Regions from separate parts of the Homo sapiens genome. Here all the other regions are linked to region 3. Evidence: fine-mapped expression QTL. A gene starts in region 3. Each other region holds a variant in brackets. All regions are shown on one strand. Distances are from middle to middle.

Region 1 (8,184 bases), 110 kb before region 3:
TAATAAGCATTCAATAAATATGAGTCATTAAATAGTCACTGCTGTTCCTGCCTCTTCCCCCTCTCTATATTAACACATTCAGTGTTCTATCACCTAAGAAAACTAAAACCTTCCAAAATGTTTCCCACATGTGGTCGGCTATTGATGATTTTTATTTCTGCCTTTGCATTTTTACATGTCAGAGGTCTCTACCATGCACATGTGTCTAAGAGGATTACAATGAATAAGAGCTGACATTGGCTGAGCAGGAACTCTGGGCCGTCCCCGGTGCTAGGAGTTTCCTATGCACCCTATTGGTTCAGCCTCTCGACAATCCCATGTAGGGTTACCAACTGTCCCAGATGGCCCAGGCCTGAGGGGCTTCCTGGGACAAGAGACTTCTATTGCAAAAACTGGGATAATCTCAGGCAAACCAGGAGGGTTGGCCACCTTCCACCAAGGAGGCGCTATCATGATCCCCATTTTATAGATGAGAAAATTGAGGCTCAAAGAGGCTTAAAACTCTCCCTCGGGGCCAGGCACGGTGGCTCATGCTTGTAATCCCAGCACTTTGGGAGGCCAAGGCGGGCAGATCACTTGAGGTTGGGAGTTTGAGACTAGCCTGGCCAACATGGTGAAACCCCGTCTCTACCAAAAAATACAAAAATTAGCCAGCTGTGGTGGCACATGCCTGTAGTCCTGGCTACTTGGGAGGCTGAGGCACGAGAATTGCTTGAACCCAGGAGGCGGAGGTTGCAGTGAGCTGAGATCGCACCACTGCACTCCAGCCTGGGTGACAAAGTGAGACTGTCTCAAAAAAAAAAAAAAAAAACCTGCCTGGGAATCTGATCAAAAAAGGGGCAAGCAAAGGACGTAAGTAGACATTTCTCCAGAGAAGACATACCAGTGGCCAAGAAGCCCACGAAAAGACGCTCACCAGCATTAGTCATCAGGCAAATGCAAATCAAAACCACAATGAGGTTGAGGTGCCACTTCACACGCTCGACAACAGCTATAATTTTGTTTTAAAACTGAAAATAAGCGTTGGTGAGGTTATAGAGAAATTAGAACACTTACACATTGCTGGTGGAAATGTAAAATGTTTCAGCCACTGTGGAAAACAATTTGGTGATTCCTCAAAAAGTTAATCATAAAATTGCTATATAATCCACAATTCCACTCCTATGAATATAGCCAGAAAAACCTGAAAATAGACACTCAAACAAATACATGTGCACACACGTTCATAGCAGCATTATTCATGCCAGCCAAAAGGTGGAAACAACCCAGATGTCCATCAAACAATGAATGGACAAATGAATTTTGGTCCATCCATACACCGGAATATGATTCCTTAAAGAGGAATGAAGCTCTTAGATGAATGAAGCCTAAGAACATAAAGCTCAGTGAGAGAGGCCACAGGCCACAGGCAAAAGCTCCCATTTAACCTGATTGCATTTTTTTTTTTTTTTTTTTTGAGATGGAGTCAGTGTCATTCTATCACTCAGGCTGGAGTGCAGCGGCACGATCTCGGCTCACTGCAACCTCTGCCTCCCAGGTTCAAGCCATTCTGCGTGAGCCTCCCAAGTAGCTGGGATTACAGGCATTCGCCACCACCTCCAGCTAATTTTTGTATGTTTTAGTAGAGAGGGGGCTTCACCGTGTTGGCCAGGCTGGTCTTGAACTCCTGATCTCAGGTGATCCGCCCGCCTCAGCCTCCCAAAGTACTGATTACATTTTTATTAATTGTTCAGAGGAGGCAATGCATGCAAACAACGCAGATTGGTGGCTTCCAGGGGCTGGAGGAGGAGGAAGGAGGACTGACTGCCACTGGGTACGAGGTTTCCTCTTGGGTGATGCCAAGGTTTGGGAACTTGCAGAAGTAGTGGCTGCACAACATTGAATATACTAAATGCCAGGAATTGTACACTTAAAAACGGCTCATTTTGAGCTGTGAGCTTCACCTTGATTTACCAAAAACAACAAAAACAAAACCTGTACTTCAGGTCACACAACTGATGAACACAGAGCCGGCCCCGGAGCATAGGACACCCACCAGCCCGCCTTCCGTGACCGCTGGAGCCTGTGTCGCTGCTAGTCCCCCCTAGCTCAGGCCTGCCTCCCCATGCTTCTCCAAAGGCTCTCTCTACTTGTCCACTCGCCATTTGCTTGTCACCGGGGTCAGGCTTCCCCGACCACCACCCTGTGCTGGTCACCCACCCTCTTCCACTGGGCAAGTCCAGTGAACGGCACTGGGGGGTATTTGCCATTCTCCCCACCAGACTGCTGCAAACTGCCTCATAAAATTACTCAGAAAAACCCAGGGAGGCCAAGCATGGTGGCTCGCACCTGTAATCCCAGCACTTTGGGAGGCCAATGTGGGCAGATCACTGAGGTCAGGAGTTCGAGACCAGCCTGGCCAACATGGCGAAACCCCGTCTCTACTAAAAACACAAAAATTAGCTGGGTGTGGTGACGGACCCCTGTAATCCCAGCTACTCAGGAGGCTGAGGTGGGAGAATCACTTCAACCCAGGAGGTGGAGGTTGCAGTGAGCCGAGATTGTGCCACTGCACTCCAGCCTGGGTGGCAGAGCGAGACCCCATCTCACAAAAAAAAAAAAAAAAAAAAAAAAAAGAGAGAGAGAGAGAGAGAGAGAACCGAAGGGAAAGGAAGAAAAGAAAAGATAAGAAAAACCCAGGGAGGACAAGACCCAAGCAGCCAAGCAGGTCACCTCCTGAGGCCGCTGCTTTGCCCCTCTAAGGACGTCTCAGGGCTATGTCTTCCTATGCCCCCCCTTTTCCTCTCAGTCAGCCCCCACCTCACGGGCCTGCCCTGCAGGGTGTCGGGGGGCTCTTCCTTCTTGTTTTTCTAGCCTTCGCTCAGCTCAGTCAGTCGGAGCCTGACCGTGGGGGCAGCTCCTCTCTGGGGCCGGAGAATCATTCCTGTCTCCTGTCGAAATGACCCTTGGTAGGAAGGTAAGTTCACTGTCCCCAGAAGGCCTGCGGGAAGAGGCACTGCATTTTACTCAGAGCCCCTGGCAGCTGGGGAGCTGAGGAGGGGCCGTCTGTCTCCTCTGTCTGTCAAGACACACTAGAGAAACAGGTGGGGAGAGAATCCGCAGAGCTGCCCGCAGGTGGCCCCCTGGGTGGGACTGGGCCTCTCTGCTTCCCGGGGCTGCAGGGAAGGTGTCACAGGCTAAGGGTGGACTCTGGACACGGCTGCAGCTCTCACCATTCAGCTGTGGGGTCTCTCTTCGCACCTCCATCCCGAGGGTCAGGGAAGGACTGGGCGGAAAAAAGCCAAGAAGCTGGTCTCATCCACAGACACATGGGGCTTCAAGGTGGAGGAGCCCCAGCCCAGTGGGGTGGACAAGGTGCCGGGGACTGCATAGTGACCGTCAGGGCAGCCATCAGCTCCTCCTATGAAACCCCACAGGGGTGGCTGGCACTTGTCACCCTGAAGAGGCTGCAATTCCCTCGCACAGGTCATCTTGGAACAGGCAAATTCATTATAGACCCCTGGGGTCAGGAGGGGGCTCAGTACAGTCCCAGAAGGTTCCATGAAAGCCAGAAGTAGTGCCCTCAGCTTCAGCCAGGACCCTCCTGCCTGCACATTTGTTGACCACCCAGGGCCTGGGTGCTCCTGCCTCCGGCCCCCTTTCCCCACCGTGAATCCATATGGTCCCTTCTTTCCCAGCACAGCCACAGGACAGCTCTGTCACACCCTCCCCAGTGACCTACCATGAGCCACCTGGGCCGACTGGCCCTCCTTCCCCACAGAGCCCCTGGCACCCAGGACTTCCTGGCAGGTGCTGGCCCTGAAGTCCTGGGCTTCCTCTGGGCTCCTATGTGAAGCCAGCGCCCTGGAGGCCAGGTGTTTCCTGTGGGTGGGGGGGCCTGGAAGGTTCTACCACACTCACA[T/C]TCCACCTCCTCCTCTGGGGCCTCCCACTTGTGGCTCAGGCCCTGCTACTGTTAATCAGAGGGAAGAGAGAAGGCCCTGGGGATGGGGTGTGTGAAGGCCTGGACTGTCTACCGCAGGCTGGGCATGGGGTGGGGAAGTCTCAGGGTAGCAGCAAGGCAGGAAGGGGAGGAACACCCAGAGCTTGGGGGCAGAGATAAGTAAGGAGCCCCCAGTTCCAGGCAACCTGTGGGTGTGGCCTCTGGGGACCAGCCAGACAGCCTGGCATGGACAGCCTCACTCTTCTCACTGCTTTGCAAATGCCACAGGTGGTCAAGCACCCACGTGGTCTTCACACATCTGCACCTTGCAGGTCCAGGATGGAGCTGTGATCATCGCTGGATGGGAAAGCAGCTTCCTGTCTCCCTCTCAGCAAGTGGAGTGCAGTGGGGTGGGCAGCTGCTTGCTGCAGACTCACTCCTATCCCCAAAGAAGCCTTGAGAGGAGGCCCTACCATATGGGGAGACTGAAGATCTGAAAGGCCCAGCTTGCCCAAGGAACTCAGCCAGTGAGTGGCAGAGCCTCCTCCCGTCCCAAAACTCTGCCTCTGGCCACCCCCAAGCACTGCCCCTCTGATGGCATCAGGGACGCGATAAAGAAACCTCAGGCAGGGCCGGCCGAGAGCCCTTCTCCCAGGCTTGCCTCCAGCTGTGCAGGAAGCCCACCTGCCCAAGACTCACCTGCGGCATTTGGCGAAAAGCAGTCCTGGGCTCCCACCCTCCCCGGCCTACTTGAACAGGATCTCGAGGGGTGGACCCAGGACTCTGCCCAAGACTGTTGAGTCCCTCCCTCCCCGGTCTTTGAGGTGGCAAGGCTTCCCCTTTTGCCTCCACTCCCCTGTTCCTGCCACAGCAGCCTCCTAGGACTGTGTTGCTCTTTTCCTTTGAGTTGGTCTGGCTCTGCAGGGGTCACCCAGGCCCCAGGCTCTCAGTGGGTGGGGATCTGATGTAGCACTGACATGTTTCATCCACTTGACTGGCAGGTCAAGGACAGCCTGGAGGTGGGCAAGTCATCAGGACCCCAGACCAGGAACGATGGAGGCTCCAAAGTCCACCAGTAGAGGGAAGAAAATAGCCGCTGTCCCCAGGCAGAGCCACCAGTCACACAGGGACGAGATCTCAGAATGAGCACTGGGCAGGGTTCTCTGGGATGCTGAGCTCTGGTCTTCCCTGTGAGCGGCCTTGGACAAGTCATCTGCCCAGACCCTCCATACCCCGTGCTGTGTCTTCTCAGAGAGTGAGCGTTCGGAAGCATGGCGCTCTCTGAAGTCCGTGGCTGGGATGTCCATGGCTGTGACGACCTTCTGAAAACCATGTGGTCTCTGTCCCACTTTCAGCCTCACAGTGCACGAATGCAAGCCCGGAGTAAGCGCCCCCAACTGGGCTCAAGACCTTCTTCTTGGGGGTCCCTGTTGCATCAGCTTCTTTTAAGTTAACTTTCTCTTGCAGTACAGTATGAATAAAGAAAAGTCTAACACTATGTGTCCAACTCCATTTGGACTTTCACAAAGTGAGTACCTTCATGTCCTCAGCTCTCAGATCAAGAAGAAAATACTGCCAGCTCCCGAGTCCTCTTCTACCTCTTCCTGTCATTAATACCCCCAAGACAACGACGACCTTGACTACTAACGCCAGAGGTTAATCTGGCCTCCTTTGGAATTACACGACAGGTACGCTCTTGCATCTGGCCTCTCTCCTCCCACGTGGAGTCTGAGCCTCACCACATGACGTCATAGCTCCTTCCTCTCACTGCTGTAGCCCAGCCCATCTCATGAACAAAGCACCATCCATATATCCATATGCCTCTGTGGATGGATGCTTGGCTCGGTTTTCAGTCTGGGCTATTACGGTGCTGTCATGAGCAGTCTCCTGGTGAACATTTGCACACGTTTCCTTTGCGAAATGCCTGGGAAGGGAATTACTGGGCTGTTGGGTGGACATGTGTTTGGCTGCAGTAGGTCCTGCCAGCTTTCTCAAGTGGTCGTACCAATTCACCCTCCCTCCACCATTGTGGGAGGCCCCAAGCTGCCCCTCGGCACCAACATCTGGGATGTCTTTTTCTTTTGAACCACTCTCTTGGATTCGGTGTAATGCTGTGATTGTAATTTGTATTTCTGTGATGACTAATGTGGTTGAGCACCTTTTTCTACGCCATCACCTTCTTTTTTTACTTTGGGTTTTTAATAGACACATAATAATTGTACGTATTTATGGGGTATATGTGATATATTGGTACATGCATACAATCTGTAATGATCAAATTGGGATTTTAGGACATGTATCCCTTCAAACATTTACCATTTCCTTTTGTTAGGAACATTCTGAATCTTCTAGCTATTTTGAAATACACTACAAATTATTGATATCCATAGTCACCCTACCATGCTATTGAACACTAGAACACATTCCTTCTATCTAACTGTATTTTTGTACCCATTAACCAACCTCTCTTCATCTTCTTTCCAACTCCCTACCCTTCCCAGCCTCTGGGAACCACTGTTCTACTCTCTACTGCCATGAGATCCATTTTTTTAGCTCCCACATATAAGAACATGCAGTATCTGTCTTTCTGTGCCTGGCTAATTTCACTTAATATTATGACCTCCGGTTCCATCCATGTTGCTGCACATGATAGGATTTCATTCTTTTCGTGGCTGAATAATATTCCACTGGGCATATGAACCACATTTCCCTTATCCAGCGTCCTTGATGAACACTGAGGTTGATCTCATCTCTTGGCTACCGTGAATAGTGCTGCAGTAAACGTGGGGGCTCAGCTGTCCTTTCATACTGAAGTTCTTTATATATTCCGGGCACTAAACATAGACATAGATATGAGTATAGACATAGATATGGATATGGATATAGATATGGATATGGATATAGATATGGATATAGACATGGATATAGATATGGATAGATTGGAAATGGATATGGATGTGGATATAGATATAGATGTGGATATGGATATAGATATGGATGTAGATATTGATAAGGATATAGATATGGATAGATTGGATATGGATATAGATGTGGATATGGCTATAGATGTGGATACGGATATAGATATGGATAGGTTGAATATGGATATGGATATAGATATGGATATGGATATAGACATGGATATAGATATGGATAGATTGAAAATGGATATGGATGTGGATATGGATATAGATGTGGATATGGATATAGATATGGATGTAGATATTGATAAGGATATAGATATGGATATAGATATAGATATGGATATAGATATGGATAGATTGGATATGGATATAGATGTGAATATGGATATAGATGTGGATATGGATATAGATATGGATGTAGATATTGATAAGGATATAGATATGGATATAGATATGGATATAGATATGGATAGATTGGATATGGATATAGATGTGAATATGGATATAGATGTGGATATGGATGTAGATATGGATGTAGATATTGATAAGGATATAGATATGGATATAGATATGGATAGATTGGATATGGATATAGATGTGGATATAGATATAGATATGGATATAGATATGGATAGATTGGATATGGATATAGATGTGGATATGGATATAGATATGGATAGGTTGAATATGGATATGGATATAGATATGGATATAGACATGGATATAGATATGGATAGATTGGAAATGGATATGGATGTGGATATGGATATAGATATGGATGTAGATATTGATAAGGATATAGATATGGATATAGATATGGATAGATTAGATATGGATATAGATGTGGATATGGCTATAGATGTGGATATGGATATAGATATGGATAGGTTGAATATGGATATGGATATAGATATGGATATGGATATAGACATGGATATAGATATGGATAGATTGGAAATGGATATGGATGTGGATATGGATATGGATGTGGATATGGATATAGATATGGATGTAGATATTGATAAGGATATAGATATGGATATAGATATAGATATGGATATAGATATGGATATAGATATGGATAGATTGGATATGGATATAGATGTGAATATGGATATAGATGTGGATATGGATATAGATATGGATGTAGATATTGATAAGGATATGGATATGGATATAGATATAGATATGGATATAGATATGGATAGATTGGATATGGATATAGATGTGGATATAGATATAGATATGGATATAGATATGGATAGATTGGCTATGGATATAGATGTGGATATAGATATAGATATGGATATAGATGTGGATATAGATATAGATATGGATATA
Region 2 (8,184 bases), 96 kb after region 3:
TGGTATGGGGGCCATCATCCCGCCCCACCTGCAAGGCCTTCCTGGTGCTAATGGATCATCAGTTTCTCAAGTCAGTGGGGGCAGTGCTGAAGGAATAAGCAATTCTGTGTGGGGACTGTCCCCAGGTAACCCTGCCACAGGAAATAGCAATTCTGGGTTCAGTCAGGGGAATGGAGACACTGTGAACTCAGCATTAAGTGCTAAACAAAATGGATCCAGCAGTGCTGTGCAAAAGGAAGGAAGTGGAGGAAATGCTTGGGATTCAGGACCTCCTGCTGGTCCTGGAATACTCGCCTGGGGAAGGGGCAGTGGCAACAATGGCGTTGGTAATATCCATTCAGGAGCTTGGGGCCACCCCAGCCGAAGCACCTCTAACGGTGTGAATGGGGAATGGGGAAAGCCCCCAAACCAGCATTCCAACAGTGACATCAATGGGAAAGGATCAACAGGGTGGGAGAGTCCTAGTGTCACCAGCCAGAACCCTACCGTACAGCCTGGTGGTGAACACATGAACTCCTGGGCCAAAGCGGCATCTTCTGGAACTACAGCAAGTGAAGGAAGTAGTGATGGTTCTGGCAACCACAATGAAGGAAGCACTGGGAGGGAAGGAACGGGAGAAGGCCGAAGGCGAGATAAAGGGATTATAGACCAAGGGCACATCCAGTTGCCAAGGAATGATCTTGACCCAAGAGTTCTGTCTAATACTGGTTGGGGACAGACTCCTGTAAAGCAAAACACTGCCTGGGAATTTGAAGAATCCCCTAGGTCTGAAAGGAAAAATGACAATGGGACAGAGGCCTGGGGTTGTGCAGCTACTCAGGCTTCAAACTCAGGGGGGAAGAACGATGGGTCCATCATGAACAGTACAAATACCTCTTCAGTATCTGGGTGGGTCAACGCGCCACCTGCCGCTGTGCCAGCAAACACAGGTTGGGGAGACAGCAACAACAAAGCGCCAAGTGGCCCGGGGGTTTGGGGGGACTCGATAAGCTCTACTGCTGTTAGTACTGCTGCTGCTGCCAAGAGTGGCCATGCTTGGAGTGGGGCCGCAAATCAGGAGGACAAGTCACCCACCTGGGGTGAGCCTCCAAAGCCCAAATCCCAACACTGGGGAGATGGACAAAGATCAAATCCAGCCTGGAGTGCAGGAGGGGGAGATTGGGCAGATTCATCGTCTGTCCTTGGACACTTGGGGGATGGGAAAAAAAATGGATCTGGATGGGATGCTGACAGTAATAGGTCAGGGTCTGGTTGGAATGACACCACGAGATCTGGGAACAGTGGCTGGGGCAACAGCACAAATACAAAGGCCAATCCAGGTACAAACTGGGGGGAGACTTTAAAACCTGGCCCCCAACAGAACTGGGCTAGCAAACCCCAAGACAACAATGTGAGTAACTGGGGAGGAGCTGCTTCTGTGAAACAGACAGGAACAGGGTGGATCGGGGGGCCGGTACCGGTCAAACAGAAGGACAGCAGTGAAGCAACTGGCTGGGAAGAACCCTCTCCACCGTCCATTCGCCGCAAAATGGAAATTGATGATGGTACCTCAGCTTGGGGGGACCCAAGCAACTATAACAATAAAACTGTAAACATGTGGGATAGAAACAACCCGGTCATCCAGAGCAGTACCACGACCAATACCACCACCACCACCACCACTACCACGAGCAACACCACACACAGGGTCGAGACGCCGCCCCCGCACCAGGCCGGTACTCAGCTGAATCGATCACCGTTGCTTGGTCCAGGTAGGAAAGGTATTTCATGTTTCTTTACAAGTAAAAAAAAAAAAAAAAAAGCTTATTCTCATTATATATTCATGAATACTCCGAGTAGTGTTTTTTATAGCAAATAGCATTAAAATAATTTAAGTTCCCTATCACCGTGCAATATTGTATCTAAAGATTATCCAGTGAGAGCAAAGTAGGATCCTCTGGTGGTTTTCTATTCAAGAAAAAAATATATTAAGCACACTCAGTAGAACATCAAGCGAATGTTTTGGTGGTGGCGGTGGTGGCCTGGGGTGGAGATGATGGATTTGAAAGCAATGACAGTGCATGATTCCAAGATTTCGTAACCATTTGGATACAGGAGCAAAGAAGATAGGATAGACATGGTTCAGAACTTGGGCAAGTTGGCAGATGACTGTGTCAGTTCACTGACATGCCCATGAGCACAGCAGGAGGCACAGAGCTCCAAGTGTCCAGTGAGGACAATAAAAGGTCCCAGATACGGAAGACCAGTTCTCAGCCAGAGGGGCAAGGTCCAGAGTAGAGAGATTTTAAGGTGGCAAAGTCGTGAGCATGTTTCAGAGCTGTTAGAAAGGAACAAGTGGAGATGAGAATGAATGAAGAGGGAAGAGATCCCTGTGTCCAGCAGGACAAGGGCACTTCATCCATCTCGTGAAGCAAGGAGCAGGAAAGAGCGCTGCACAGGTGGGCCAGGCTGTCATGGCCAGAGGGCCAAGGCCACCTTCTGGGGTTCTTTTCTCTCTGGGAGTGTGAATACTAGCCCAGAGTGGAGGAGGGCTGGCTAGGAGCAGCAGCACGAGTAGAGAGGGAGCATGCATTAGCCCATGTAGAGGACAGGAACAGAGAACTGACTTGACTGGGGCCCCTGGAGGGTTGCTGGGCAATGTCAGGGCCCAGAGATCACCATACACAGTGAATTTATTGGGACCTGCCATGTACTAGGCTGTACTCTAGTAGCTGGGGAAACTGCAGGAAGCAAAACAGTCAAAACCCTGCCATGGAGGGGTCTAGATCTAGTGAGGGTGGCAAACAACACACGAATTAAAGTATATACGTAGTGTTGGGCAGTGATGGTGCAGGGAGGAAACAGTAAGCCCAGAAGGTCTGCATGCGGGGGCCACTGGAGTTGGGGAATCACCATCTTGTGTAGGGCAGCCTGGGCATTTGGGCACCTTTTTGGTTTTTGTCATAAGCGTTCAACAGGAGAATGTCCTGCCTGCTGCATTAATTCAATTATGACTGCCCTACAGGACCTCCCCTGGCCCACCAGCTGGGCCCTCCAGCCTCCTCGTAGACTTCTTGGTGGTTCACTTGTGTACCTCTCTGAGGCTGCCACATCAGGAATCCTTTATGGATCCTCAAGACAGTTTTAGCCTCCAGCTAACGCATCAGTGTCACTAAACCAGAGGTCAAAAATCAGTGGTCCGTGGGCTGCACCTAGTCCCACAAATGTGCCTTTTTGGCCCACATTTTTTCTGTGAATTGGCATTTTTTTAATGCAAATGTTTTATATTAAATTCCAGATTTCTGGCTTCCTTTGGAAACCTGAAAAGTCTGACATTGGATTCACATGGCAGCAGTCAGTCAGAGCCACTTGCCTTCATAAGGGCCTGTGCATTTTCTCCATACCATGTCACGTTGCCCCCCGACCCCTGACGGTTCCCAACACTGAGGCTTTTGATCAGTAGCCACTGAGCATCATCAAGCTTGCGCTGCTGTTCTTACGCTGGGCCTGTTTACGTTAACTGACTGGTTCCTTGGAGTACTTGAATTTGTGATTCCAATTGTTTACTAATATATGACTAATATTTCTAGGCCCTTACATTTTATAAAGTACTTGGGGGGATAAGGAGAAGCAGGAAGAAGGAAAATGAAGGGATTTGAAAAATAAGATTAGGTCGGGCGTGGTGGCTCATGCCTGTAATCCCAGTACTTTGGGAGGCCAAGGCGGGCAGATCATCTGAGGTCAGGAGTTCGAGACCAGCCTGACCAACAAGGTGAAACCCCATCTCTACTAAAAATACAAAATTAGCCGGGCATGGTGGCGCATGTCTCTAATCCCAGCTACTCAGGAGGTGAAGGCAGGAGAATCATTTGAACCCAGGAGGCGGAGGTTGCAGTGAGCTGAGATGGGGCCATTGCACTCCAGCCTGGGCGACAGAGCGAAACTCTGTCTCAAAAAAAAAAAAAGAAAGAAAGAAAAATAAGATTATTCCTAAGTAAGGAATAGTCTAGTGGGACAGGCTAGTAATATCAAATTTAATAGAGTTTAATTAGCATTATAGTAAAGGTATGCAGAAAGTGATCTGAGAGCCCCCACCTGTAATCCCAGCTACTTGGGAGGCTGAGGTGGAAGGATGGCTTGAGCCCAGGAGTTCAAAGCCTGCCTGGGCAACATAACGAGACCCCATTTCTTTAAACAAACAAACAAAAAAGCTCCAGGAACAGAATTAATACAGTCATGCATAGCTTAACAATGGTGATACATTCTAAGAAATGTGTCATCAGACAATTTCAGCATTGTGTTAACATTATAAAGTATAGTTACATAAACCTAGATGGCATAGCCTCCTGCTCACCTAGGCTATACGGTACAGCCTGTTGCTCCTAGGCTACAAACCTGCACAGCATATTACTGTACTGAATACTGTAGGCAGTTGTAGGACGATGGTAAGTATTTATATATCTAAACATGAAAAGGGGACATTAAAATATGGTATAAAATATTTAAAATGGTGCACCTGTATAGGGCACTTACCATGAGTGGAGCTTGCAGGACTGGAAGTGGCTGTGGGTGAGTCAGTGAGTTAGTGGTGAGTGAATGTGAAGGCTTGGGACACTACTGCACACTACTGCAGACTACGCACACCACTGCAGACTACTGCACACTACTGCAGACTACGCACACCACTGCAGACTACTGTACACTACTGGAGACTACTGCAGAGTACTGTGCACTACTATACACCACTGCAGACTACTGTAAACCACTGCAGACTACTGTA[T/C]ACTACTGCAGACTACTGCACGCCACTGCAGACTACTGTACACCACTGCAAAGTAGAGTTCACCACTGTATACCACTGCAGAGCACTGTACATCACTGTGGACTACTGCGCACCACTGCAGACTACTGTAGACTACTATACACCACTGCAGACTACTGTAGACTAGTATACACCACTGCAGACTACTGCACACCACTGCAGACTACTGTACGCTACTGGAGACTACTGCAGACTACTGTAGACTACTATACACCACTGCAGACTACTACAGACTACTGTACACTACTGGAGACTACTGTGGACTACTGTACACTACTATACATTACTGCAGACTACTGTACACTACTATACACCACTGCAGACTACTGTACGCTACCATACACCACTGCAGACTACTGTACACTACCATACACCACTGCAGACTACTGTACGCTACCATACACCACTGCGGACTACTGTATGCTACCATACACCACTGCGGACTACTGTACGCTACCATACACCACTGCGGACTACTGTACGCTACCATACACCACTGCGGACTACTGTACACCACTGCAAAGTAGAGTTCAGCACTGTACACCACTGCAGAGTACTGCGCACCACTGTAGACTGCTGTAGACTTGGTGAACACTGTACGCTTAGGCCACACTACATTTATTAAAAGATTAAAAGATACTTTCTTCAGTAACACTTAGCTTAAAACACACATTGTACAGCTTCACAAAAGTATTTTTTATATTCTTATTCTATGAGCTTTTTTTTTGTACCTTTTAAACTTTTTTGATAACTAAGACACAAACGCACACGTTAGCCTAGGCCTACACAGGGCCGGGATCTTCAGTATCACTGTTGTCCACCTCCACACGTTGTCCCATTGGAGATCCAATAACAGGAAGTACAGTAAAGACATAAACTGGTAACATAGTCTTGTATCAGCATCATCAGTTGTGTGTGCTAGACCTTGCTGTGACTGGCCGCACAGTAGGTTTGTTTACACGAGCATCACCACAAACACGTGGGGAATGCATTCCGCTACATTATGATGGGTATGGCGTCACTAGGTGATGGGAATTTTTCAGCTCCATTATATATAATCTTAGGGGACCATTGTCCTGTACGCAGTCAGTTGACCAAACCGTCATTATGCAGCCCATGACTATTTTAAATTGGCTTGTGTGTCCCATCCACCCTTAGTGGATAGTCCCAATTTGAATGCCAACTCCTGGAAGAGTTCAGGCTACAGAGGGCCCTATGCCTGGCACTGGAGTCGTGCAATAAATGTGGTCTGGCCATGGTTGGCAGTCATGTATGGAGCATTTTTATGGATCACCTCATTGGATTTTTACAGCTCCTTGGGCCTCATTTTACAAATGAGACCTAGGAGATTAAGTAGCTTTCCAAGGGTACATATGTGGGAGGGAGATGGTGAAGTCTCAGATGTGTAATATATACCATGACCTGCTGACATTTCTAAAATATTACATCCATGACACCCTACAGAGGTTAGAACCACATTGCATTTGTTGGGGGATCTCTCCCCTTTGATACGTGATCCTTAGAAACTTTTTCTTTTAGAGACAGAGTCTTGCTATGTTGCCCAGGCTGGTCTCAAACTCCTGGCCTCAAGCCATCCTCTCACTTTGGCCTCCCAAAGTGTTGGGATCATAGGTGTGAGCCACCATGCCTGGCCAGAAACTACTTTTTTTTTTTTTTCTTGAGGCAGAGTCTTACTCTGTTGCCTGGGCTAGAGTGCAGTGACACAATCTCGTCTTACTGCAACTTCCACCTCCCGGGTTCAAGCGATTCTCCTGCCTCAGCCTCCCAAGTAGCTGGGATTACAGGCGATCACCACCATGCCTGGCTAATTTTTGTATTTTTAGTAGAGATGGGGTTTCACCATGTTGGCCAGGCTGGTCTGGAACTCCTGACCTCAAGTGATCCACCCACCTCAGCCTCCCAAAGTGCTGGGATTACAGGCATGAACCACCATGGCCGGCCCAGAAACTACTTTTTTTTTTTTTTGAGACAGAGTCTTGCTCTGTTGCCCAGGCTAGAGTGCAGTGGCACAATCTCAGCTCACTGCAAGCTCCGCCTCCCAGGTTCACGCCATTCTCGTGCCTCAGCCTCCCGAGTAGCTAGGACTACAGGTGCCCGCCACCACGCTCGGCTAATTTTTTTTGTATTTTTAGTAGAGACGGGGTTTCATCATGTTAGCCAGGATGGTCTCGGTCTCCTGACCTTGTGATCAGCCAGCCTCGACCCCGCAAAGTGCTGGAATTACAGGCGTGAGCCACCACGCCTGGCCCAGAAACTACTTTTAACTTGTTTTTAGTAGCCAAAACATGGGAGCTTCATGCTGAGAAAGGCATTCTTGTTCAGTTAAAAGGGCCAAAATAATTCTCTTTTATATGAAAAATATTTATAGATTTTTTTAAACAAATTGCACATATTATCACCAAATATAAAGAAGAAAAATGTGCTGTAACTGCTACACCTTAACAGAGTGTTTCTGTACTCTGTTCTCCCCTGCAACTTTTGCAGCCTGTGCATGCGTGTGCTCTTTGTAGGTGTAGCAATACTATAGGAGCAGTTGCAAATCTAGTTTTACCAATTAAAAGAGACAAATAAAAAGTTACACAAATTTTTTTCCATGTGGAAGTGTGCTCACATGCTGAAAGTATGTTAAGTTTAGTATATTGTACAACATATGGGGTTATTTGTTCATTTTTTTCATTTATAACATTAATCTCTTTTTCTACCACTGGCATAAAGTGGCTACACTGAGTATTATTCCTGCCCTGTATTACCTGTGATGTTTAACTCTCAGACATGAACCAAGCCTTCTTTTGCAGTGAGAGCAAAGTTCATCACCCTTAAGAATTACAAGTAATCATAGCCTTTCACTCTCCAAACTTGTTAGACCAAGCTATTATTTGAGCCTGTAGAAGTAACAGTTCCACACCAGTTCCCTTCATAGAGGTGACAGCATGCAGGAGTGGCATTACCCCCGGTGGCAGCCCCTTGCCCTCCTCTCTGGGGACTGTGCCATCTGGGCAGTCAGGGTCAGCAAGGGCAGCAGCAGTCTCAGCACCTGCTGGGCCGTGCTGCCCACTGGCTTGAATGCCTGCGCAGCTTTCCATAGCTACTGGGATTCCCAGACAAAAGCCTTCCACTTGTGACTACTTCATGAAGTTTCTGCTATTTTTAAAGTTGGTGTTTTTAGGTTTTATTCAGCATAGGTTGACCTATGCTGAATTTATAGAATTTTCACTTATGTCAGAGTTTGGGTTTTAAGTTGTGGATCATTACCACTTAAGGGTATTGATCTCTCCTGTCTTATAAAATATGATTTCTGAATTACATTTTTGTGTGTGTGTGTGTGTTGTTTTAAAGGAACGAATGCTACAGTACAATCATTTTTG
Region 3 (8,184 bases):
TTCCACAGTCCCTTCCTCACCATCCATCCTTTCTCACTGAGAAAGACAACGAGGCAACATCTTTTACCATTTTCTTACCCTCCAGATATGTCAGACCCCAAGTCCCCCAGAGCTGAATTTAAAGTTATCTTTCAAGCAGGTCTTCTCCGTTTAACCTCTATTGCTACTCTAGGGGATTCCATAAGTTCTAGTTTCCTGGCTGCAGAACTGTGCAGGCCGCCTACCCCCTGCCATCACCTCCTCCCTGGCCCTTCCTCTTCCAGGTCATCTGCTACAATGTTTCCAGAGAGCTCTCTTTAACAGTCAAGTGTAATAATGTCTGGAATCATCCAAGAGCTCCACATTGCCTTAAGGATAAAGTACCAACTCTTTAAGGTCACATGAAATGCTCCTTGTATTCATAATCTGGCCTTGGGTGTGGTGGCTCACAATTGTACTCCTAGCACTTTGGGAAGCCAAGGCGGGCGGATTGCCTGAGCTCAGGAGTTTGAGATGAGCCTGGGCAACATGGTGAAACCCCATCTCTACTAAAATACAAAAAATTAGACGGGCGTGGTGGTGCGCACCTGTAGCCCCAGCTACTTGGGAGGCTGAGTTAGGAGAATTGCTTGAACCCGGGAGGCAGAGGTTGCAGTGAGCCAAGATTGTGCCATTGCACTCCAGCCTGAGTGACAGAGCACGACTCCATCTCCAAAAAACAAAGATAATAATAATAATCTGGCCTCTGCTCATCTCTCCCATCTCCTCTTACCTGGGCTGTTGCAGCCCCACTAATGTCTTCCAGCCCCCTGAAAGTGCTGCGCTGCAAGCTCTCTTGGGTTTCCTTTACACTGACCTTTCCCTCTTTCTTCAGTGCCCTTCCATCAGCTTCTGACCTATTACTGCTTTCCCTTGCATCTTTCAAGACTCAGATCTGAGGCCCTTGGAGAAGTCTTCCTGAGCCCTTCAGAATGACCTGAGTCTCTTCTGTCTCCTGCAGCACCTCCATGCATTGTAATCATAGCTCAAGCACGGCTTGCAGCTTTAAATCCCTGGCACCTAGTTCGCTGCCTGGCACGTAATACACGGCAATTCAGCAAGTATCTCTAACTCAGTGAGGAGTACAAAGGAGAAGTCAGAGGCCCAGAAACTTGCCTAAGGTCAAACAATTAGTGAGCAGTGGAGTTGAGACTCACCCTTACTTTTATTGTAAGGTTCTAGTCTCTATTCCAATATTATTATCAGCATAGTGGGAGGACAAAGGCATCAGAATCACTTGGGGAGCTGATTAGACATGCAGATACATGGGCCTCATCTGGACCTAAGGTGAATTTGTAATTCAAACAAGCTACCCTGGCGATTCTCATCAACAGAAAGTTTGAGAACCGACGCCCTGTGCCTTGCTGCTTGTCTGAAAGGCCTCTGTAAATTTATCACATTTTTCTAAGTCAGTTCAGTTGCTATCTATCGGTGACAAGCAGGGAGAGCTGAGCCCGGCTTTCTTACATTTTCATTGAAAAGCAATCATTTGTTGGAGTCCTGAAGGTTTTCCCTTTAAGAGTCCATCATTAGGATGCAAATTATACGTGTAAAATCAACAGAAATAGGAGGATGGAGTAATTCAGGCACCAGTGTGTGGTAGGAAGTGACTGGGCATGGAGAGGGGTATTATACGCAAATACAGCCCTCAAAAAGGTGTCTTTATTACTCTCCTCCAATTTTCATCGCCTCAGAATCATCTGGAGGGCTGGCTAAGATGGAGATACCTGGGCCCCATCCCCAGAGGTTTCGATTCACTGGGTCTGGCAATGGGGTCTGAGAAGTTGCCCTTCTAACAAGCTCCTAGGTAAAGCCAATGCCGCTGGTCTGGGGGAACACACTTTGGGAAACCCTGAGCTAGTCAACACAGTAATCTGTTTTGCAATAGTCATGGAGATAGGGACGTGATCATCCTGTCTTTCCACTTAAACCCCTGCACAGATGTGGATCTTGCTACCTTTCTAAATGGAGTTTCTTTTTCTTCCCATAGCTTGTTGGAGTACAGGTGGTATTTGGTTACATGAGTAAGTTCTTTAGCGGTGATTTGTGAGATTTTGGTGCACACATCACCTGAGCAGTATATACTGCACCCTACGAAATGGAGTTTCTATTAATAACTCCATTTGATAGAAACTCCATTTTGTAGGGTGCAGTGTATATTTGAACTAATTTGCCTAATATCTACCACCCACTGATCTCAGGTTGGCTTCTCAGGATTTCAAAGAATATATCTGTACCTATTTGCATACAGGAGTTTCAAAAATATCTGAAAAGAGCCATCCTGGCCTGCTTGTCTCTTCTTCCCTGCACCAATCTCTTCTGCTTCTTCAGCTGTTGGTCAGACTGGAGGATTTCCATCAACAACTGGCTGTATTCTGAGTCAGTCTCTAACTTTGTCGATTTCTTTCTTGCACCCTGGTGCTCAGAACTGGCCAAAACACTCCATTTGGGATCTGACCAGCTCAGAGTGCAATCTCTTAAACTGGACACTATTTTAACGTAGTGTTGTTGTCGTCTTCAAGCAGTTCACACATTTAGCCTTGTTGAACGTGTGGTCATCTATAACTAGAATTTTTTACATTACCTTGTATCCAGCTAAGTCTTCTTCATTTGTCCTCAACTAGTTGACATTTTAATTTAAGAGACACATTTAACATTTAGTCCTCTTAAACGTAATTTTGTTGGTTTTACCCTTTTTTTTTTTGAGACAGAATCTAGCTCTGTCATCCAGACTGGAGTGCATTGGCGCCTTCTCTGCTCACTGCAACCTCTGCCTCCCAGGTTCAAGGGATTCTCCTGCCTCAACCTCCCAGGTAGCTGAGACTACAGGCGCCCGCCACCATGCCTGGCTAATTTTTTGTATTTTTAGTAGAGATGTCACCATGTTAGCCAGCATGGTCTCCATCTCCTGACCTCCTGATCCGTCTGCCTTGGCCTCCCAAAGTGCTGGGATTACAGGCGTGAGCCACCATGCCCAGCCCTATAGATGATCAACTTATACCTTAGTTATAAGGTGGTGGTGGCAGGGCTGATAACAGGATGACCAACCCGAAACATGAACGTACCCATTTTTACAGTTGTGCCTGGGGTTCCTACTCATACTTTATCAGTTCAAACAACCACTAATAAGTGACACTGCTCTGCAGTCTTAACATTCATGGCCACCATATGCCTCAATGTTTCTGGGTCAACTTTAGTTTCAAACATTATCTCTACTGTCACAGGTCCACATGCCAAACTATGAGTCCAGTTTGGGGTTCAGAACATATAGTCTCTATAGTTCTGCCTTTTCTCGGTGCTCAGAGTCTAATATCATTGGAGAAGAGGACGATTTTTGCCTGATTAAACTGAGGGAGGGGGATAAGAAAGGGAACCAAAGACAATGCTAAATAATGTATTTTGGTTCAATTTTCCAAAAAGTGAAGCTCTGCTTATCACAATGATTGGTCCACTCTGGTCCACCCAGATACCTGGATTCCTCATTTATGTAGCAGCAGTCTACTTCGTGGGCGCTGCCTATTTTGAAGATGTTATTTTGCACTCCCTTCTGGAGCATGTGATAATACCTCTACCTTTGAGAAATACAAAAGATGTAGGTTCTCTGCAGTCGAGAATTAAATGAACGTAAATAAAATGAATAGACAAGGCAGAAGCCTCCATGTCAGCTCCCTCTGCCTTCAGATCCTTCTAAGGGATGTGGGTTCTCGGGAGGGGAAATACACAACACGATACAACAGACATTTGACGACCCTTTAGAGGCTGGTTGTGAATCTGACTACCGGAGGGCTTAAAATATGGCAGTAAGAAGAAAGGAGCTCATGGGACCCTGAAGGGAAACGAGAGCGGGGAATTTGTCTCTTTCATCCACAGTCGTTTCAAAGCATGACACTTGCGGTAACAAAATTGCATTGCGAAAGTACTAGTGTGTTATTATCTCCTCTTCAAGACAGGGACACGTAGACAGGGAATGGCCTCTTCCAATACCAACTTCCAAGTAGCACTGCTGATCCTCCACTGAACGATGGGGGAAAAGCTAGCCTGCTTCTGCGACCTTGCATGAAAATGGAGAAAATTCTTGGTTTCAAAATCTTCTCCTGGCTTGAACCGAAAGTTAAAAAGGGACTTTTCGAATTGCACATTGCGCCTGACCTTACCTACCACTAATGAATAATGGATATCGAGGAGCCGTGGAATGGAGGATCACGGCGGCGTACGGAGCACCGGGGAGGAATCGTGGGGTGCGTAGGCGCCGGAGCGCCCGGGTTCGGCCCGGACCGAAGGCTTGCGCGGTGAAGGTGTGGTGTCTGTGCTCCGGGGAAAGGGCTGTCTCCCCGGGGGACTGTTTCGCAGCGAGGCTTGTTTTGCTCGCAGCTGGGCGCTCCCTGGGGAGCGACTGAGCGCAAGGGCGGGCCGGGAGGCGCGAGGCGAGCACGATGCTCCAGGGCCCCAAGGACTCGTGTGCGTGTGCGTGTGCAAAGTGGGGCGGTGCAGGGCGTGTGCACGGCACGGGCGAGACGCGCGCCGGTGCGGGCGCCGGGCGCCGCCGGGCGCAATTACAGCATAAAGCCCGGGCGCCGCGGGGCGCTGGCCCGGAGAACCCACCGGACGCGCAGAACCGGATCGGCACCCCTCCCGCCAGCACCCTAACGCGGAGCCACAGCGCCCAGGGACCGGAGGGCAGGCGGCGGCGGTAAAGGACACCACGCAAGTCTCCACGTAACCCCCCCGAGCAGTGCAAGCTCCCAGGACTGGCGCGCGTCCCGGCCACTCGGAGCGCGCACCGCTCGCACCCCGGCGCGCTCCCCGCGCGGTGCAGGGAACCACAGCGCGGGCGGGTATTAAGGGGAAAGGAGGAGGCGTGGCCTGGCCGAGGAGCCAATGGGCCGGGAGGGGCGCGCGGGGGAGGAGCTCAGGTGCAGAGTGCCGATTGGCCAGTTCGCCCTCCGGTATGCAGATACGGTGGGAGTCACGTGCTAGGGGCCGGGACGACTTCCTGTTGGAGGCCAACGCGGGGCGGGGAAGGGGGCGCGAGCGCCCCGTCTGGCTGAAGCGGGGGGAGGGGGGTTCTTGTCAGTTAGAGCAACAAGATGGCCGCGGTGGCAGCTCCGCACCTCAGCGCGACGGCCCCGGGAGCCGTAGCCGCCGCCGCCGGCCCCGCCGCCGCGCAGTCTTGAGCGCCGCCCGGGCCGCCCCCTGACAGGGCAGTCCCAGCGCCCGCCGCGCTCCCGCCGCCGTCACCGTCGCAGTAGCCGCGGGCCCGCCCGAGCCGGAGGCGGAGGGAGCGGAGCGGCCCCGCGCCCAGCCGTCCGCAGCTGCCACCGCCGCCGCCGCCGCCGCCTAGGACCCGGACCCCGCCGGAGCCGCATCCCGCCGGGCGTGAGGAGGAGGACGCGTCGCGGCGTTGCCGGGGCCGGACCTGGACCTGCCGGGACGCGCCGCCGCCCACTCGCCCGCGCCGCCGCCGCAGCCGCCGCCGCCGCCCGCGCCGGGACCTGAGTCCGTGGCGCCGGCGCTGAGCGGGCCCCCGCCGCCCGCGCACTCCCGAGGCCCTCGGGCGGTTGTTCGTGCCGCCGCCGCCGCCAGGCCCGCGCCACCGGAGCCCCGCGGAGCCGCCGCCGCCGCCGGGGACGGAGCCCAGGTGAGCGCGGCAGTCCGCCCGCTCCTCGCCGCAGCCGCAACTTTGCCGGGAGGTTCGCGGGCCCTTTGTTCGGCCGAGCCGAGCCGGGGCGGGCGCTGGCCCCTAGCGACCCGCGTGCGGCGCCAGGCCCCGGGCCGGCCGGGTTTGAGGGGAGCGGCGGGAAGCGGCCGGGGCCGGGGCGCGTGTGTGCTAGTGTGAGACGGGGCTGTGCAGACGCCCGGTGTGCATCACAATCAAACGGGAGTGGAATGGAGGGCTGAAGATGGATGTGCCCCCTCCCTTTTAAAACTCATGCAGCGGTGAAATTCGGTCCTTTCCGGGCAGCCCCCCGCAGATTTTGCACTGGTGATGGCAGGCGCGAACCCGCCGTGTTTTGGTGCAGGAGCCCGGTGCCGTTGTTTGGGGGAAGAGAAAAACCCGGGGCGTGCTGCGGGTGGGCGGAGAAGGACCCCTGGGCGCTCTGCGGCTCTGAAATCAGGTGGATTTTCTAACGGTGCTGCGGACTGCGGAGTAATGCGTATGAGGAAAACGAGCCGTACAACATCTGTCCTGTTATCAGATAACGTAACCCGAGCGCCTGGTTGCCGCCTCTGCTTTAAGCGGTGCCTCCTTTGCACCTTTACCTTGAGGACGAGATTTAATTAATTGATTCGTAGCTATGAAAATGTGCAGATGTGGATGTGGGGGTTCCCTGCCTGTTAACCTGGGGAAGAAATAACTGGCAAGCATGTTACACGGAGCTTTGGGGATCTTAGCAAAAATGAAGGCTTGCTGCTTGGATGTTGTGCCGGGAGGTAGGGGAGGAGGAGCCGCTAGATCGTGGCTGCACCTATTGCATTCGAAGGCATTTGACGGTATTGGTGATTCTGCACGTAATTAGTGGAGTTGTCTCAAACCTTTGCCTCCGCCAAATGAAACCTCCATTTGAGTGGTCCGCTCGGTTATTTCTAGGCGTGAACTGCGGATTCTAAACTCAAAATGGTGCTCTGTAGATGTCCAACTTCAGCGTCTTTAAGGAGTTGCAAGTTGGAGCCTTCTGACTGGGTTAATCCATTGTGTAGCCGAGGTTCGGTTTTTCTCGAGTGTCTGGTGTTCACGTTGACGTACTTCGGCCAGTACAAGGTAGCCAATTTATGGTGATCGCTGTGAGAGCCTCGTACGTCCCTGAATGTAATTTGAGCCTGCATAAGGCCTACTTTATGCAAGTGATTTCCTGCAGTTGGAATTGAATAACTATGCGAATGAGTTGAGACCCTGGAAACCTGGCTTGAGTGATTTCAGAGGACAGTGGTAGCTGGTTTGAAATGTGTAGGGGGTGTTGGCAATGATATTCATAGATTCCGGATTTCCTTCAGTACTGTATGAAAGAATAAATGATAAAACTTAGCCCCAGGCCAGATGAACTTGGTTAGTAGAGGGCACCTTGAAGAAATTTACATTGTTCCAGAACAGCAGAGGTGGCAATGGTCTTTGAGCATGTTTCACTGTAGCACCCCTAGGATGCTTTGTTGGGGGAAATAATGCAAAACAGGGTTTTTAAAATGACTAGTTCAGTTGTCGGAATTAATTTTGTGTGTATTAATAGAACAAAGTAATGATGTGAACAGTTGTAACTTTACCTATACTGAAAGTTTTTTTTCTACAGAAAGTTTTTAATATTTATTTTCATAAGAATAGACATTCTTGGAAGCTGTTTTTCATACAGATTTCTCATGACCTGACCATAGGCATAGTCAGGCCGTGAGAAATTGATAGCTCAGAAAACGGTAATAGTAAACACACACACACACTCGTTTTTATTATAAGGATCTGATTTTAAAAGCTTGTTTGTAACTCTTCTGTGCTTCTTGTCCAAAACAAAGACCTTGCTGACCTTACCTCGGTTTTACTTTTTTTTTTTTTTTTTGAGACAGTTTCGTTCTTGTTGCCCAGGCTGGAGTGCAATGGCACGATCTCGGGTCACTGCAACCTCCGCCTCCCGGGTTCAAGCGATTCTCTTGCCTCACCCTCCCGAGTAGCAGGGATTACAGGTGCCCGCCGCCACGCCCGGCTAATTTTTGTATTTTTAGTAGAGACGGGGTTTTGCCATGTTGGCCAGGCTGGTCTCGAACTCCTGACTTCAGGTGATCCGCCTGTCTCGGCCTCCCAAAGTGCTGGGATTACAGGCGTGAGCCACCACGCTCGGCCGGTTTTACTTTTAAGGTATGAAATTAAATACGGTTGATACTGAGACTGTCTGTCATAAGGTTTAATCTTAACAATTTCATTTCGGATTCTGCCATTTAAATATTCTGGTAGTAACCTGGAGTATATGTAAGTGTTGGTTTTAGATTTTCGTCCTTCGTGTTTATTGCGGGGGGCGAGGGTGGGTTTCGAGTAGCATATGTCTTAACACTAACATCATTTCGAAACAGGTTTACATTTATATTTAGTTGGCTTAGGAACTTTGGAGTAAATAGTTGCCTTTAGAATGCTGATTGTGAAGGTAGAGTGGAATGAACTGTTTCGTTTGACATTCGGTGATTAAA

Direction of the effects. Positions count from the first base shown, and alleles are read on the strand shown. Sizes are in standard deviations (SD) of each study's normalised expression. Not every link is listed here.
For the expression in fibroblasts of the gene that starts at base 5,091 in region 3, allele T in region 2 goes with a higher level than allele C (small effect, 0.24 SD a copy in GTEx).

The links.
Region 1: its variant is fine-mapped to the expression of TNRC6C in whole blood (TOPMed, PIP 0.97).
Region 2: its variant is fine-mapped to the expression of TNRC6C in fibroblasts (GTEx, PIP 0.98).

Annotation. Positions count from the first base shown.
Region 1 is chr17:77,842,809-77,850,992 of GRCh38, forward strand. No RefSeq gene overlaps it. Among named protein-coding and RNA genes, the nearest start is that of LINC01973, 37 kb to the right of the region's middle. RefSeq lists a silencer at 928-1,027 and enhancers at 2,647-3,296, 3,297-3,944, 3,945-4,594. The variant T/C (reference allele first, on the strand shown) is at 3,902.
Region 2 is chr17:78,049,698-78,057,881 of GRCh38, forward strand. It overlaps TNRC6C (trinucleotide repeat containing adaptor 6C), which reads left to right. Exons shown (of 23, transcript NM_001142640.2): 5 at 1-1,751. Among named protein-coding and RNA genes, the nearest start is that of TMC6, 75 kb to the right of the region's middle. The variant T/C (reference allele first, on the strand shown) is at 4,760.
Region 3 is chr17:77,953,613-77,961,796 of GRCh38, forward strand. It overlaps TNRC6C (trinucleotide repeat containing adaptor 6C), which reads left to right and starts at 5,091. Exons shown (of 23, transcript NM_001142640.2): 1 at 5,091-5,656. RefSeq lists silencers at 4,706-4,755, 4,776-5,235 and enhancers at 4,908-5,467, 5,468-6,026.